2 separate regions of the Homo sapiens genome follow, and region 2 is linked to region 1. Evidence: fine-mapped expression QTL. A gene starts in region 1. The other region holds a variant in brackets. All regions are shown on one strand. Distances are between the middles of the regions. Region 1 holds the start of CNTN4-AS2 (CNTN4 antisense RNA 2). Region 2 has its middle 380 kb from the start of CNTN6.

The links.
Region 2: its variant is fine-mapped to the expression of CNTN4-AS2 in lung (GTEx, PIP 0.99).

What each region holds. Positions count from the first base shown.
Region 1 is chr3:2,138,656-2,148,115 of GRCh38, reverse strand. CNTN4-AS2 (CNTN4 antisense RNA 2) reads left to right here and starts at 3,875. Exons shown (of 3, transcript NR_046555.1): 1 at 3,875-3,986. All of the region lies in intron 2 of CNTN4 (contactin 4), which reads right to left.
Region 2 is chr3:1,464,088-1,473,547 of GRCh38, reverse strand. No RefSeq gene overlaps it. Among named protein-coding and RNA genes, the nearest start is that of CNTN6, 380 kb to the right of the region's middle. The variant A/G (reference allele first, on the strand shown) is at 5,419.

The sequences.
Region 1 (9,460 bases):
CCCACAACCAATCAACCATATGGGAGCCATGAAATCATTCCAACTTGAGACACACTATCATGCCTTAAGAAGAAAAAAGGCACTAGGAGCCAGCTTCAGAGAAATCAACATCAATAGAAGTAGTGTGGGAGTGAAAGAGAATCAATTAGAAGAGTCACGATGAAACAGACAAGGAATTTGAAAACAGGAGTGGAGTTTTTAATGAGGACAGATGGACCAGGAGAAAAGACTTCTAGGTAGAGGATACAACATAAGCAAATACACAGAGCCTGGAAATTGTGAGATCCATTTGGAAAAAGACAGGCCATCTTGTCTGATCAAAGCAGTAAGTATGAAATACAGAGAGGACACTGAAAGGAAGCACATCTCCAAAGGTAGACTAGAATTGTGTCATAAAGGCCTCAATTCAGGCTGAGGAGCCTGTGACTAATATGAAAGATAATGGTGAGCCAGTGAAGCCTGTTGAGATGGGAAATAATGGGATTGAAGCACTGACTGAGAAAGACCTCACTGGCATCTCTACAAAAAATGGGCAAGGAAGGTTAAAGAGTGGAGGACGGGAAAGAGGGGGAAATATGTGTTGGAAGATGTTACAATAGGTGGTCATAAAAAATAATTAACAAATAAAAGTCATTTCCATTGATGATACATAAAAATTAACGAGCCCCTAGCTTCTGGTCTGGCTTCCAGAGTACTTAATGTTGGTCTGTTAAAATTACTGCAAATTTTTTTTTTTGCTATTTTTAATTTGTTTTTATTTTTTAGTCCAAGATATGAAGAACACACATAGTTAAAATCAGAAATAGCAAGAAAATCCAAACTAAAGGGCTGGAATGCTCCTCTGATGCATGCTGAGGGTAGAAAAATAATAACAATTAAAAAATAAAGTGCTGGAATGCTTAAACAGTTCGACATTTTCTATAATACTATGGAATGAGGCCAGGCACAGTGGCTCACTCCTATAATCCCAGCACTTTGGGAGGCCAAGGTGGGTGGATCACGAGGTCAAGAGATCAAGACCATCCTGGCCAATATGATGAAACCCCATCTCTACTAAAAATACAAAAATTAGCTGGGCATGGTGGTGAGTGCCTATAGTTCCAGCTACTCGGGAGGCTGAGGCAGGAGAATCGCTTGAACCCAGGAGGCAGAGGTTGCAATGAGCCAAGATCACGACTGCACTCCAGCCTGGGCGACAGAGTGAGCCTCCGTCTCAAAAAAACAAAACAAAACAACAACAAAAAACTATGGAATGAAGTGTGAGCTCTAAAGACAAAAGAAACTGATATTTACTAATTATCTACTAGGTACCAGGCTTTACAACTCCCCTGAGAAGTACTGATAATCACCATTTTATAGGTAAGGTGACATATAACTGACACATATCAGGGTAGGGACCAGACCTCTCTGTCTGAAGAGTCATATCATCTTTCTTTCCCACCACACTACATTTGAACAAATGATAAACTGCAGGCTACAACCATTAGGGAGTTATGAAATCAATACTGTGAGTCATGACCAGTATCTATTTTACAATGGGATAAAATGTAAAATATCAAGTGAGCACTGATTATAATAAGGGTAACTAATATTTTATGAAGTATCAATTTCATATATATGTGTTTATATGTGTGCATTTACTGGAACAATATAAAATGTATTTCTTATTTTAGATAATAGCAAAATAAATTGGAAAGCTACTACATAGATACTATATGCATAGATATTACTATAGATAGTAATATCTATCTACAACATAGAGATATTACTCAGGTTACCTTTAGAAATAAATTTTACTCTAATCAAAAATACTTCAATTTGTAGTAGCTAAAAAAAAAAATATTAACAGCAGTTACTCTAGGTTTAGCATATGATGACTGAATTAATAGAAGTCAATTAAATTATTCACTAAAACTACAGTAAATAAAAGTCAATAATTAACATCAATAGAAGTCTTAGGTTCTCATATAGCCCTCAAATATAGATAAAAAATATCATTTATTTTAAAAATAAAATAAATTGAAATAATGTAGCAATTTTACCTGTTTTCCAAATGATTTCTAAATTTATGTAACTATTTTCTTAAAATGGTTAATTATCAATTCTCAGATAAAAGTATTAAAGATTAAAAAACAAAACTAATGCCAACTTCATTTAAAAAAAAAAAACTAAGAATGATTCCAGTGTAGTAATTACAGCATCCTGAGTTTGTTTTCTAGTCTATTATGCTAGCCCATATGACCTTTGTCAAATTACTTAAGCCTTCTAATCCCCAAATATTCTCATATTAAAAGTGGGAATAATAATAACATATTTCATAAGGTAGATAAGGAGAAACCCTACGTAAAGTGCTGGGCAAGATTGCCAAGCTCTTAGAAAATGTTCAACAAATAGGATTGAAATTTCATTTCATGTATAATGCTTGGCATGATTAATTTATGCCAAAAGCCAATTGTCACTGCCAGTAAATTTCATAATTAAACTGAATGTGAGGTGGAATCATAAAAGCTAAAGTTCTGAGGATATTTCATCTTATTCCTGATTTTTCCCAATCTGCCGGTCCTTTCCTATCTGTCTTCTTGCTCTCTGTGAACTTAAAAAAATTAAAAGCTCGATCTCACCTTGCCACACTATTATGTTTTATATGATTATTTCCAAGCCTCTTACTAGCAAAGCCTTGAATCTCAGTCCTGAAGGATTAGTGGTAGCACAGGGAGTGGAGAGAGATGCAATGTGACAAGGCCAGAGTTGCTAGGCCTGCAACATGACCAACTGTAGCTTATAATTCCCTAAATGGGTTCAGATCACTGTGGTATGATAAATGTGTGGACTGCTTTATAAAGAATCATTTAACAGTGATTTATTTCTGGGGGGGAACCAAATGCCACCAGAACTAATTTGATGAAGTGACAAGAGAACACAGACTTTAGTTGTGGGTCACAAACTCTCTTCATCTTTCTGCTACTATATTTCCAAATGAGCAAAGGAATTGTGAAGTTGAAAACCACTCTCTTTCATAAGAGAAAATTATGAATAAGAAGCCCAGAGCACCAGAGATAACCTCCACCTGAACATCTACTCTGTTGAGACCACCTCCCTCCAAAATTGTTTTCATCAGCAGTGCTTTCCTAGGGGAGCGAAAATGATGTATATCATGGTACAAAACCCTTATTGTGGTAACTGATCTGATCTTCCCTGCTCGTGTATTCCTGTTTATGTAAGTACAATAAATCCAATATGAACAGGACAGCTTCGATGTTGAGAAATCCCTCCTGAGAAATTCTGGGCAGATTTTTCTCTTAAGAAGCTTAGAGCTGATATGGCTTTGACAGATACAATTCCAATATTTAATTTAATTCAATAAACTTAATTGATGACTTGCTATGTGCTGGGCACTGGTTTATATTTGAGTTCTCAATTCCAGGTTTAAGAATCATTATTAACATTAGGATGTGGGGTCAGAGGGATGAGTATAATACAAGTCATATCCTCGGTAATCCGTGTCATTGTGTAGGCAGAGTTGAATTAACTACTATAGTTAGGCAAGGGTCACATGTAACCCTCTCAATGATCCTTTGCCACCCATCCCTGAACCCCTTGATCTGTGTGTCCAGCCAAGGTTGATGATTCTTCCACAATAAGAACAATTCTTCACTCTAGTGCTTGTCTTTCTCTTTTAGAAACTCTATGAAAATCCCGTAAGGTAGAACCAACAAAGTCTAAAACACTATCAGTGGGAGTGATTTATCATGGCAACTGTCGACTTAAAACTTTCAAGTAAAGAAACGCTTGTTTTACTGACCTACAAGTAGGAGAATAATTTCAAGGCTGGAAGCTAGAACCTTCAGAATCCAGAAAAATCCCCAGGCCTGATATGTAAGCTGTAGCCAAAGAAACAGATCACAGGCCACACTAAAATTGTGAACTTCATGGCAATTGCTCCAGTCCCACCTGCTCCAGATACCTAAATCATGAAGGCTTACTAGGTAGGTATGCTTACCTCCTACACCCTCTATTTCTTTCTCACCTGCAGAAGAAAGGGATGGAGCTTTGCTCATGTCTAATTCTACTTCATCTTCTTAGTTCAAAATATTGCTGTAAACCCAGAAAGGAGGCTCAGAATCTTTACTTCCCCTCTCACTATTTGCTGTTACAGTTCAAGTATGTGTATCTGAGTAGCCCTAAAAAGTAACCAAAATATTATGGTAAATCAATTTCACCAAACTTGTGTTAGCCATTAAAATTAGTCATGGATACCTTTAATTAGCATCTTACCTTTAATGGCTCATGGCAATGTAGGAACTCAGGCCCTGGAGGACACAGCACAGCAATTTGATTACTGATTCTGCACTTGTAACAACATAATCCTGGGCAATCATTTAACTCTAAACTCAATTTCTTCATCTACAAATCAGAGATAATAATAACTCATATGTTTGTAAATAAAGAACAGGGTGCAATGCCTAGCACACAACATGCATTTAACAAATATTTATCATTGATAAATTAGTAGAATGGTATAATAAGAGGAGCAAGAATTTAGACATTGATGATCTAGGCTCAAAATTACAATCTGCTGGTGATTCTCTGAGCCTAAGATTCTTTATGTCTAAATCGAGAATAGTATCACCTCCTTCTCAGGAGAATAATAATGTGATTAATTATTAATTATCTAAGGAGAATATGAATCTGATAATATTCTTAGTTGTTGTGAAAATTAAACAAGAAAATGAGCATTATTGAACCTAACACAGTTTTGGCACACAGCTTATGTAAAATCAGATTGACAAACTTTGGTTTAACTTCATTAGCCACCAGAATATTTGTGAAGGTAACTGCAAACCAAATGCACAAATAGAATAAGACAACCTGAACTATTTTATTAATTGATCTGGTCATGGTTAATTCTAAGTAACAAAGAAAATGGGAAACGTAAAACAGAAAAAAATCCAGTCTATAAAATGAACATGAACCCCAAATCATGAAATGGTCAGCAAGGCTGCACGGCAGTACAGTGAACCATCCAGAGGCAGTGAACGTGGTGCTCCCAGTGACCTTGAGAAAAATCGCTTACGTAATGAAGGCTCAAAGCATGACATACGTTTGAATCCAGTTAAGAGAGAAATAGAGGTTAAGGCCATAGAGCACTCATTTTGCTCCTTCAGAGGAGAGTAGAAGTAAAGTACACTGTCATTGCCTGGCAATTGCAAAAAATAGAGGCAGCCTATTTACAATCTTTGAAAGTTACGTGGAAATTCACTCCTTAATTCTCTCTCAAGATCTCACATTATATGCCTGAAAGCAGCCGTAGTTTCTATGAAGTCCTTCTCCTTCTCTGCTTCTTTCTTCTCCTCCTCCAGCCCCCTCTCCTCCTAATTTTTGTTCTTCTATCATTTGCAGAGGCAGCTGTAGTAGTTTGTTAACTGGTAATGGAGGGGAAGATTAAAAAGGGAGTGAAAAATGAAAGCATATCAGCCAGGCACAGTGGCTTGCGCCTCTAATCCCAGCAGTTTGGGAGGCCGAGGCGGGCAGATCACTTGCAGTCAGGACGTCGAGACCAGCCCATCTCTACTAAAAATACAAAATTAGCCAGGCATGATGGCGGGCACCTGTAATCCCAGCTATTGGGGAGGCTGAGGCAGGAGAATCTCTTGAACCTGGGAGGTGAGGTTGCAGTGAGCTGAGATCATGCCATTGCACTCCAGCCTGGGCGACAGAATGAGATGCCATCTTTAAAAAAAAAAGAAAGAAAAAAAAAGGAAAGAAAGAATATCAAAAAGTCAGGAGAGCAGACAAAGTCTCTAGCTCTAAAAACAAAACCAGAAAGCTGGTATATTTTGGAGAAATTATGAAATATTTTACAAAAAGATATCATTTGTGCCAGTCATATGTAGAAACAGATGCTTCCACAAATATTGGAAAAAAATATAAGCACCCACACTGTTTACATCCTTTACTTCCTTCTTTGGCTGTATGACCAATCGAAATAGCCCCATGCTAAACCAAAGCAGTGTCCATCACATTTACATGTGGACAGTTAATATGCCTACGACAGAAATCATTAACGTGTCAAAAAATGAATGTGAGATGCATCAGGATGAAGAAATACATAATGATGGTAGTGAGGTCTAATGACCAGCAGCTTTGGATTTATAGAACCACCCTCAGTTTCTGATTAAGCCACTAATTTTTGGTGGTTTAGAGCATTTCAATCTTTATTACTGAAGATGGATTCATAAAATGGATGCAACTGTCAAAAGGTTTAAACATTTTGGAGGCAATCATAAGAACGCCAATTAAAAAGTATTTCATAGTGAGAATTCATCTGCCTGAACACCAGTATGGGGTAATTCTGCTTGTAGTAAACCTGAGAACAGTGAAAGTGTGATTATGTAGTTATCAGTTTGACACTCAGGGAGCTATATGATTTTAGAATATGAGTTAAAGATTAATCTCAAAAGGCTCAGTGAACTTTCTATGGTTTCTTCCACTTTATAGCTGTATTCATTTCCTACTACTGATGTGACAAATTGCCACAAATGTAGTAATTTAAAGCAATATACATTTACTATCTTACAGTTCTGGAAATCAGAAGTCTAAAATGGGTCTCACTGGGCTACAATTAAGACTGGGCAGGGCTTCCTTCCTGTTCCTTTTGGAGGGTCTATCAGAGAGTCTGTTTTCTTGGCTTTTCCAGTTTCTAGGGACTGACCTTGATCCTTGGCTTATGGTCCTCTTTCATCTTCAAAGCCAGCAATCACATAATCACAACTCCTGCCCCTCTCTTTCATTTACAAGTACACTTATAAAATATTAGGTCCACTAGGATAATCCAGAATTTTTTCCTCATTTTAAGATCCTTACCTTCATCATATTGGCAGAGTCCCTTTTGCCATGTGAGGTAGCATATTCAGAGGTTCTAGAGATTAGGACACTGGCATCTTTGGGGCAGGGCCAGCATTCTGCCTATCACAATACCCTGCAATGACAACATTGTAGAAATGCTAAGGTGCTCTTCATTTTGGGAATTGTTTCTCCAGCTCCCCCAGCAACTGATATTCCAGCTGAAGAACAGGAGTAAGTAATATCTCATTTGAAAGTTTCACATAACCTGTAACTTTGAAGACTGTATGCTGAGTGTGGTCAGGCTGGCAGATTATAAAACAGGATCTTTAAAGAAAAGAAGCTGGAACTCTTGACACAATCAAAAGATGTTCCGACACAATGAAACAGTCAACTCATACACATATCAAAGACCTGGACATACAGAAGTAGAGATCACATGAACAAGCAGTTCAGGGAATAAAAGGAAGAATTTTTCTGAGTGCAAAATATAAATTTTGAGGCATACACCAGCTTTGTACCAAAAAAGGAGCCATGCTTTTACATATACCTAGTTCTTAATTGGCCTATGCTATGGTCTGAATGTTTATGTTCCCCCAAAATTCATATCTTGAAATCCTAATACCCAAGGTGATGCTATTAGGAGTTGGGGCTTTGGGGGAGGTAATTAGGACATGAATGGGGTTAGCGCCCTTATAAAAGAGGCTGCAGAGAGCTCTGTTACCTCCTATACCCATGTGAGAACATAGCAAGAAGGCCCATCTATGAACCAGGAAGTGGGCCCTCACCAAAAGTGTCTGAGGTTGCCGTGATCTTGGACTTCCAAGACCCTAGAATTGTAAGAAATAAATTTCTGTTGTTTAGGAGCTACCCAGAAAATGGTAACTTGTTATAGCAGCCTGAATGAACTAAGACAGTCTGATCTGGGCAACAGAGGCACTTATCTTCTGTTAATCATATAAAATGAAAGCTCTGTTTTCTCATCAATCCATAAATAAGGATTTTAAGGGGTACATTATTTCAGGTGGTGTATTAGTCTGTTCTCACACTGCTAATAAAGACATACCTGAGGCTGGGTAATTTATAAAGAAAAAGAGGTTTAATGGACTCTCAGTTCCACATGGCTGGGGAGTCCTCACAAGCATGGTGGAAGGCAAAGGAGAAGCAAAGGCACATCTTACATGGCGGCAGGCAAGAGGGCTTGTGCAGGGGAACTCCTCTTTATAAAGCCATCAGATCCTGTGAGACGCATTTGCTATGACAAGAACGGCACAGTAAAGACCTGTGTCCATGATTCAATCACCTCCCACTGGGTGCCCCCCATGACAGGTGGGAATTATAGGGATTACAATTCAAGATTAAATTTGGGTGGGTACACAGACAAACCGTATCAGGTGGGTTTTGTGGATTGGTAGGAAAAGATGCACACATCTGTGATAGGTTGCTGACTGATTTAGACAACAAAACACATCAGAAGCAGAGTGGCTACACTGAGGAAGAGTGTGCACTGTGCACACTGGCATAGTTTTTCCCAGGCCCTTGGTTCTGGAAACATCCAGCTGGTGTGACACTCCCCAACCAAGCAGTCTTGCAAGAATGCCCTTCAACTCAAGTTGCCATCAGGCTCACATTAGAATTTCAGTGATAATCTATGTCTACCACTCCCAAGCTATGCTCAACTGTCAGGATAGCTCGAGGTAGTTGGCAGTTTCAATATTTGATTGCATTACATTCCTTTTCATTATGTTATATCTTTGCAAAGCTGGGTTCATAGCCATTGCTGTAATAAAATGTGCGTCATGAAAATCAATGTGGATGGGAATCAGGTAGCAGTGTCCAATCTAATTCCAATGTATGTGAAGTCATTCTGTGCCCAACAGGAGGATATATCCCATTAGTAAGCAATAGTGGTTATTTAAGAAAAAAATATTTTATTTCAATTTGTGTGTTTTTTCAAATGATATATATGTTTTTCAAATTACGTTAGTACATAAATTCTTATTCATTTGTTTCAACCTACCTACCTAATGAATAAAACTACTTAATGTTGAGTATTTTCTTTGGCCTAGGGGTATGATGAAAACATTACAAATATACTAAGGGGACTACAAACCAGGATCTACGCTCTGCCATTTAAAGGAATATTTATAAACACTGGCTCTCCTGATTCATTAAGCAAACCCAGTACTCAGAAGGCCACATGCTCCCCCATTTGTTAGAGGAAAAAAGATGCACTACCCAAGTGCCCTGGAAAAAATCTTTTTCCTGCTTTCCTGAAAATCCACTCCCCATAAAACCATACACATACAAACTGTCTTTGCTTTGGCTACTCTATTAGTCAGAGCTCTCCAGAGAAAGAAAACCCATAGGCGATATATCCAGATAACTAGATGGATAGATAGGCAGAGAGAGAGAGAGAGAAGAAAATTTATTACAAAGAATTGGCTCATATGATTATGGAGACTGAGAAGTTCCAAAATCTGCCATCTATAAGCTGGAGATCCAGAGAAGAGCTAATGGTGTAATTCCAGTTCAAGTCTGAAGGCCTGATAACCAGGAAATGGTATAAATACCAGTTCCAGGGCAGGAGAGGACCAATGTCCCAGCTCAACCAGCA
Region 2 (9,460 bases), 670 kb after region 1:
TGTGGAATCAGTCACTTGCTCAAGCACCAGTTGAATGGTCTGGACTAGACTCCTCCAAGATTTCTCCAGATTCAAGATGCTTTATAAGCACCCTCTTCACATACCTCCTTTTCTTAGTTTGTCCAGCAAGAAATGTCCCTTCTGTCTGCTTTCCAAGGTATTTATGGATACTCTTTATGTCCTTCTAAATCAGGGCCTTCCAATTTGGAGAAAAAAATGTGTGCAAGCATGTATGTGTGCTGGAGGTGAGTTGGGTGGATATTTGTTAATGGAGCCATCAGGATGAGCCACTCAGACATTTCAAGACAGCTTGCTATGGAGAGCCCAGTTGACTAAGAGCTCAAGCTGCTACTCCAGAGAATGTGGAGGCCTCAACTCCCACGCACTTCAGCCAGCCAGTGACTGAGGAGAGTGAGGGCACCAGTGCCAGCCCATTCCTGCCCAGTGAAGGATTCTGCATAGGTAGCTTGTTCGGGGATCTCGTCATTGGCTTGGGAGAGAAGTTTTCAAACCTGAGCTGTGGTCTGAGACTCTTTCTGCCCAATTCTTCTTTTCTTTCCCCTTCCCAGGTGTCAAACCTAACTTGTGGTATAAAGACTCTCCCTGCTTACTCCTTCTCTTTCTCCGTTTCTCCTTCACAGGTCTATTCCCTCCAGTAAATTTCTTGAATGAAGTGTCTGCTTCTTGCAAGAACTGAGCTGACATACGTGTATACTGCATGGGTGGGTGTGTGTGTGTGTGTGTGTGTGTGTGTGTGTATATATACCATACATACATATACACACATGTAAATATATATACATACAGATACACATACATATGGAAATATACATACATATATACACACATACATACATATATAAATATAAATACATATACATAGCTATATACATATACATAGAATTAACAAACAGAAGAAAAGAATATCAGCAAAATGTGGAAATTGCATTAATTGGTATTTGACTTTCTCAGTATGTTAATATTTTGAAGTAATCTGAGACAGGCTTTTCCAGAATTAAAAAAGAAAACCTTCAGGAAAGAGAAAATACTGCATAAGTGATTTCCATTTGTGCCAACTGTGGCTGTTTAGTGGCTTCGAGAACCACTAAACTTTCCACAATTTCTCTGCTAAAACTGCACATGCAAATGAATCTGCAAAGACATTTCTCTCTGTTTAGAAAAAAATTGATTTATGCAGAGGTCTATGTTGTTTATTTCGATAAAACTGGTCTCAATTGGAAGTAAATGTCTCCAAAGAAATTTATCTTGGAGAAAGAGGTATGAACTTTATATTATAAAAATTTGATCAACTATCATGTTAGGTGCCAAGGTCAGTGGAAATTTCACTACATTAATATTTACTTACGTTAGGATTATTTTTATTTTTATTAGTTCTTTGATTACAAAGTTACGTAGGTTTTTACTGTTCCATCTTATTCTTTCAAAAAATCTTATTATTTTAGGGGGTGATTCTGTAGAACAGGAGGCTTTCCTACATTGTGGAAGAAACTCCAGTTTATATCTATAAAGATATAAATGTGTTCATTCTTTTTAGAGAGCCAGGGTCTGGCAAATTAAAAGCTTTGTTTCACAAAGATTGCCCTCAAAAGGAGCTTCAAGGGCCTATTCTGGAGCTCAGAAACTGAGCACTGACTCTTTCTTTCATTTATGTTCTAACAATCTGCCTTTCCCAGTCAGGCAATGGATAATCCAGGCTGAAGTCAGGAAAGGCCAGTATTAACAGTGCAAAGAAGAAGTAGAATAAGTATGTTTGAAGGTACGCCTTAGTGTAGGTTTATTGCTGCTGCTCGCTAGTCACTATCTAAGTGGGATTCACTCCTTACCCTGCACACAGGGTTTCAATTCACGCAGCAGAAAGAAGAAAGAATATACTCACAGGTCACAGACTTTCAGAATCATTTGGCAAGTTGAAACAGTAAGTGAACACCCCTGCTCTGCTGTTTTAATTAGACAGGAAAAACCTTAGACATAAATGTGACAATGTATTTTATCAAGTGCTCTTCACTACATCTTCACTGATGCAAAATATTTTCTCCAGCCACTTAAATGAAAATTCTTCCCTAGGAAATTTTCATTCTGATTACCTAAGAGAAGTACCAAAGTGTAAATATATTTTCAGTTTGCAGAAACAAATGAACATCATTTATGGATTCATAAGTCATCATGTAAGCTGCACGTTATCTCTAGGAGGGAAAGATGAGGTGCAACTTCATAGAATTAAAGTCCAGTGGCGAAAAATAGAATTTTCCCAAATCCTACAACACAAGAGATGTAAGAAGCAAATATTATATGACGTGAGGGATTTGGAGAAAATTTAAGTAAGCATTTCCTGATATAAGAGTCCTGAAATATTACAACATTAAAAAGGATTAAAGAATCAAAGTCAAATATCACACAGTGTTTAGAGTTAGTAAGATGATGCAAGGAGAAGGAGAATAGTCACGGCTAACATGGCCTCGTACCTCATAAATCTTATCCGACCGTATTGATTGGCTAAGATTTCTCAAGATCTCTGCTGTCCAATTCTTTTCATGAACTGTTTGTTTCATTATTTTATATTTGCCTTTTCACATGATTAAGAAAACAGAAAAATTAAAGATGAAATTCTTCTCCATCAGTTATTGTGTAACAGTTCACAGTGCTAGGCAGTAGAATCAGTGGGAAAGAGAAAAATACGGATGTGATGGGACCTTACCCCAGACACTGAATCAGCTTTTCTGGGTGTGGAGCCCAGGCATCTTTAATTCACTAAGTATTTATTATTATTATTATTTTTTTTTGAGACGGAGTCTTACACTGTCGCCTAGGTTGGAGTGCAATGGTGCAATCTCAGCTCACTGCAACCTCCGCCACCTGGGCTCAAGTGATTCTCCTCCCTCAGCCTCCGGAGTAGCTGGGATTACAGGCATGCGCCACTGTGCCCAGCTACTTTTTGAATTTAGTAGAGATGGGGTTTCACCATGTTGCCTAGGCTGGTCTTGAACTCCTGACCTCAGGTGATCCATCCACCTTGGCCTCCCAAAGTTCACTAAGTATTTCTAATGAGCAGCCACACTTAACTGCTAGTCTATAAGGGATACCTTTAATTGTTTTTAAAGTTTAAATTTATCACCCAAATATTAAGCCTTGTACAACATACCCCCCCGACACAAGTTTACCTATGTAACAAACCAGCACTTACACCTCTGAACTTAAAAGTTTTTAAAAGTTTGTGCAAAAGTATGAGATTTTGCTAAAAGATTGCCTTGAAGTATCCATCAAGAACAAAACAGTCATTTTAATTTCCTCATGCAAATTTTAAAAGAAGCTATACTAGGAAAATTCAAGGCCATCTGGAACTAAGTTGCATGGCAGTCACCTAAAATCCTTGGTGGAAAAGATAAGGCTGCAATCAAATAAAGTGAATTTCAAAGTCACGATTATCATTTTAAAATCAGAATTTCGAGCAGAAATATCAAGAACAGGTATTGTTGGAAGAAATATAAGATTTTTAAAACCCTCTGGCTCATATTCACGTAGGTGAAATTAACTGCTCCAATACAAAATACCTTGTGATCAGTAAACTGAACATATCTTTTGCAACAAGAATGTACAAGGTCAATTGGAAGGTGGGGTGGAGCCACTGCTGTGAAGTCTAAGGCTACAAGTGTTGTCAATATGTAACAATCCTTAAGGAAAATTGTTAAGTCACTGTGGACAGTACAGGAAAACTCTGGGCTAACAAGTATTTAAGTAAATAATTATCTCCTTTGCAATTTGAAGATTAGTTAGAAGTGAAATAATTCCCAGCACATAACCTGATGTAAACATTGCCTTATTTTCTTTTTCATTTTCAGGATAGCTATTCCTGCATTCAATAGCCACAAAGAAAGAAAAAAACATAAAATGTGAGATTAAAAAAAATCATTAATTATGACTATAGTTTTTGCACATATAAGTTTTACACATGGCTGTAATGACAAGAAGAAAGCTTCTGCATTGTCTTTGGTCCTGGTTATGATAAGTAACACTGTCCGCCAGACGGTATAGTGATAGACCCTATACTGTACTGAACTTCAAAAGATATTTGTAAGATGGAGAGTTGCCAGTAAGTAGAATGCTTTCACCCTACTTCAATATTAGTTTAACAACTGGAAAGATCTGGCTGCTTAAATATTAAACACATGTTCAATTATTAAACACTTAGGATTCTTCTTCTGATTATTAAACCTGTATGTAAAGAACATTGGTGCTAATGTGCAGTCAGCTTGACTGGCACCACAATCTTCCCATGTTGTGGATTTCAAATTGTTTCTATACTGTCTCAGGCATCAAAACAGGGCTTGGCAGCACCAGAATCTAACAAAAATGCAATTAAAAACTACTTCTCAAAGTTTCCAGTGGGCACGCGGATCATTTCCAAGAAAGATGTTCAGATTATTGCTCAAGGCAAAATGACTTCAGACGGTGATTTTGCCATTGATCTAACAGGAAAGAATTCCCTGCTAATGAACCTCGGGAAAGAGATTAATAGAAATAAAAGATAGCTCCTACCACTACCCTTTATCGAATGTGAGTGAGTCTGACAATAAGACATGAGATTCATTAAAATGTAACAGTAAGAAAAACAGTGTTACAAATAACTGAATTTCTGAATAAGTAGCAGTCTTCTATAAATACTGAGTCAAACAATCAGCTAATGAAGTTCAATGCTCTATCATCCTTGAACATGTTACTATGAAATTTAAAAATGCAAGGAAGTTAATTAATGACTCTTCAAATTAATTTAATAATGTGAACTACCTCATCCAAGTCGATGGTTTGAATAATTCTAGGGGTTCCTGTTCTCCTGAACTGATGACTTTGATTAATATATTTTACCTTATTGCTTTATTCTAATAGAAAATTAGAAGGGGAAATGGAAGGGAAATTTTGCAGAATTAGATTTAGAAACAAAATGTCTTGATTACGCTGTGCAGTACCCAGCATTTCCTATATACAGAAGCATTTAGCTACCTTGCTAAATTATTTTCCTGAAATTTAGTGTTATATACGTTAAGTCCAGGAAACATCAGCTCATATGCTTTGTGATAGACATGGCGCTCGATCTCTACATACAAAAAAAAAAAAAAAAACCTCAACAAGAGAAATGACATCATCCAACTCTTAGGTCACTGGGAGGTACATGCACTGGAATCTGATTACACTGGCCCCACTGCTTCTGTTATCATTATCAAGTCATGTGACTCTGGGCACGTCACTCCATCTCATGCAAAAAATACTTTGCTGGACTAAGTGCTCTCCAGTGTTTACTCTCACTCTACCATTATATAATATATAAATTAACAGGGAAATGTGGCTGAGATAATGCATAAACCTGGAAAATATGAAGTCATTAACATTTAGCCTTAGGATGCA[A/G]TAGTTTTCTTTCAGGAAATTACTTTCATATTTATATTCTGCCTGAGCTGGTGTTAAAACTAGTTTCCATTCCTAGGTCACACCAGATGACAGTGAAGTCAGATGATTCAGATTCATGCATGGACAAAGGGTGAAGCCTCCTCAAAATATTGACAATATTTAATAATCTATAACACAGAAGTCATTGATGGTATTTTCTGGGTAAATGAACATGATCTCCCATGTCCTTAGTGGAGAACATGACATAATCTATTTTTTTTTTTTTTTGAGACCGAGTCTCTCTCTACTGCCCAGGCTGGAGTGCAGTGGCACGATATTGGCTCACTGCAACCTCCGCCTCCCAGGTTCAAGCGATTCCCGTGCCAAAGCCTCCCAAGTAGCTGGGATTACAGGTGCCTTCCACTACACCCGGCTGATTTTTGTATTTTTAGTAGAGACAGGGTTTCCCTATGTTGGCCATGCTGGTCTCCAACTCCAGACCTCAAGTGATCTACCTGCCTTGGCCTCCCAAAGTGTTAGGATTACAAGCGTGAGCCACAGCACCCTGCGGAAGACATAATTTATTGAGCAAACCTTTAGTAAGTGCCTATTTTGTGCCTACCTATTGTGTTTAAAATTGTGTTAATGTCTGAAAAGAAATTAAAACCTATTGTCTCTTCCTTGAGCAAACTTAAAATAGTTGAGAGTACTGACGAAATAGTATATCATTCAAACAAGACTACAGTTAACTAAGCAATAGCTAAATTATAAGCTGCTAAGCTGCACAGTGAGTTCAAGTTTCTTAATCAAGTATCAAATATGTGAGAGGGAGGTGCTGGGCATGATGGCTCATGTCTGTACTCCCAGCACTTTGGGAGGCCTAGGCAGGGGGATTGCTTGAGCTCAGGAGTTCGAGACCAGTCTAGGTGACATGGTGAGACCCTCATCTCAATAAAAAATACAAAATTTAGCTAGGCATGGTGGTATGCACCTCTAGTGCCAGATACGTAGGAGGCTGCGGTGGGAGGGTCACTTGAGCCAGGACGCTGAGATTGCACCTCTGCACTCCAGCCTGGGTGGAGAACAAGACTCTGTCTCAAAAATAAATGAATAAATACATAAACAAATAAACTATTCAAAGGCGGATTGGGATCACTGTATCCCTATCCAAAAGGGAATACCTTGGATACAATAAAAAATTAAGCATTAACTGAAAATCTGAGGAACTTTGAGGGATTGTTGGGCATGTCCAGATATTAGATCTCCAATAAAGTGTAGAATGAAAGTACATGATTTGATTTAAAGTTGCCTTTTAAGATACTTTATGTGAGAGTGCTACATATTTGTTAGAAATAGGGAGAGATGGTACTGGGTGGTACACCTTATGTCAGAAATGGAAATATTACAGTGACTAGAAATATTAAAGTGACTAGAACATACAATTATCTGACATAAATTTTCAATACATTAGCTTTGCTATGGCAAAATACCCTAAACTTAAACTGATGGAGATTAATTGCTTGCTGCATGTCCACTTACTCTGGAAAACCCCAGTCTGGATTCTAGTCGATAACCCCATATCTGGTTATGATTATAGGTTCAGAGTCACTTATCTCTCAATGTTTAAAGATGTTGCTGTATTGTATTCTGGCATCCAAAGTTACTGTTGGAAAGTCTGATGTTATTTTGATCCCTATCCTTTGCATGTGATTATTTTTCCTCTATGAAAGTGTATTAGTGTGCTGGGACTAAAATTACAAAATACTAAAGACTGAGTGACCTAAACAATAGCTCTTGATTTCTTACAGTTCTGGAGGCTGGGAAGTCCAAGACTAAGGTTCCAGCTGATTTGGTTTCTAGTGAGGGCTGTCTGTCTTGCAGACCATCACCTTCTTGCTGTTTCTTCACATGGAGAAGAGAAAGAGCAAGCTTTCTGATGTCTATTCTTATAAAGACACCAATATTATCCGATTGAGGCCCCACCCTTATGACCTCGTTTTACTTTAATTACTTCCTTATTCCAAAGATTGTCACATTGGGGGTTAAGGTTTCAACATATGAATTTTGGGGGACACAATTCAGTCCATGCAGAAAATATTTAGAAGTTTTCTTAATCTCTAGAATTCTGAAATTTCATAATGCAGGTTTATCTTCAGCTAATCCCATCAGTCCTTCAATCTGGAACATTTCCACTTTTTAGAAAAATATATAATTCTTTTGCTTTTATTTCCTTTACTAAAATTTCTGTTATCTAAATATCAAATCTTTTGTAATTACCTTTTGATTTTCTCATACTGTTCCAGTATCTTTCATTTATTTATCTTTTTATTCTACTCTGGGATATTCCTCAACTGTTATACTATTATTCCACTTTGCTGCCCAAATTTTATTTTGATTATCCAATTTTAAGTTATAAGAGCTATCTTTTTTCTTTGACTTATTCTTTCTTTCTCTTTCTCTCTTACTGTCCTCTTAACCCAATACATTTTCTTACTTGTTTGAGGACATAAATTTGAGGTTTTTGAAAATGTTAGCCTTACCTTATTTTGTATCTTTTTTGCCCTCCATTTTCTGGTAGTTGTTTTTCCCCGACATTGAAGGCTTTCATCAGCTGTCTACGTGTCTGTACATATGTAAGAATGAAAGAATAAAAACCTGGTTAAAAGGTTGAAGACTGATGGGCAAAGGGGGTATTTGTGGTTCTGTGGACTTCACTGCTGAGTCATTGCACAATCAGCTGGACTCTCAATGAGAGTATGCAAAGATTGTTTCCCTGTAATTATTCAGTTCTTCCAGAGAACATTTTTCTAGTTTTCTGTTGCCTTAATGCTTATGGTAAGAGGACGGCGGCTGGGCGCGGTGGCTCACGCCTGTAATCCCAGCATTTTGGGAGGCCGAGGCGGGTGGATCTTTTGAGGTCAGGAGTTCGAGACCAGCCTGACCAACATGGTAGAACCCCGTCTCTACTAAAAATGCAAAAATTAGCGGGGTGTGGTGGTGTGCACCTGTAATCCCAGCTACTCAGGAGGCTGAGGCAGGAGAATTGCTTGAGCCTGGGAGGCGGAGGTTGCCGTCACCCAAAATTGTGCCACTACACTCCAGTCTATGCAACAGAGTGAGACCCTGTCTCAAAAAAAAAAAAAGAAAAGAAAGAAAGAAAAAAAGGAGGGCTTGGGGGCATGGTTTTGTCAACCTTTTCTAGAGTCCTATGAGCAGGGTTCTACAATTTGGCATTGAGACTCTTCTGTATCTCCGCCCTTTTTTAAACTCATACTTTACCCCAGACGTTCACTGTACTTGCGGGCCTGAGGTCAAAAATCTTTTTTTTTTTTTTTGTATCTCTAGAAACTATCCCTCCTCTCTCCTGCCAGATGGAGATAAGATAGACCATCATTTCCGTGTTGCTCAGAGTGGGTGAGGATTATGTGGTTCATCCGCCATGTAACACTCAAAACTAATTCTGTTTTCCTTCGTTTTTAGTTCCCACTCCTACGTCAATATCCTGTAGGCTTTTAGTTGTTACTTATTCCACCTTGCTAATTCACTTGCCACCCTTTATTTTATTTCTTTCATAAATTTGTTTACATTCCTTATCCATTGCGTTCTTCTTTCTTCATCCTTTTTGTTAAGTTTGTCTGTCATGGCAAAGTACCTCTATAGGCTGCTGTCCTTTGAAATAATTTTCTTTAGTGATAATTAAAGAAGACATTTTAATTGCATGTGTTATCTGAAATGTACTGTTAGAAATAATGACTTCTCAGATTCAAAGAGAATCTATCACAAAGCAATCCTCTACTTTGTGCAGTAATATAACTTCTCAATAACACTCTTGCTCCTTTCTTTTCCGTTATCAACTGACAGTCTTAAAAAAAAACTATTTTCATATAATGTTTGGCTGATATTTCTTAGTTATGGTAATGGTTTTATAGAGATTAGAATTTATAACTAAATATATTAAGGTCAGAAAGGGAAAAGTAAATGTGCATTAGCTAATATTTGTGTCTTATTTTAAAATAATTTTCAAATGATAAGATTGACATAATGTACATTGTTGATATATTCT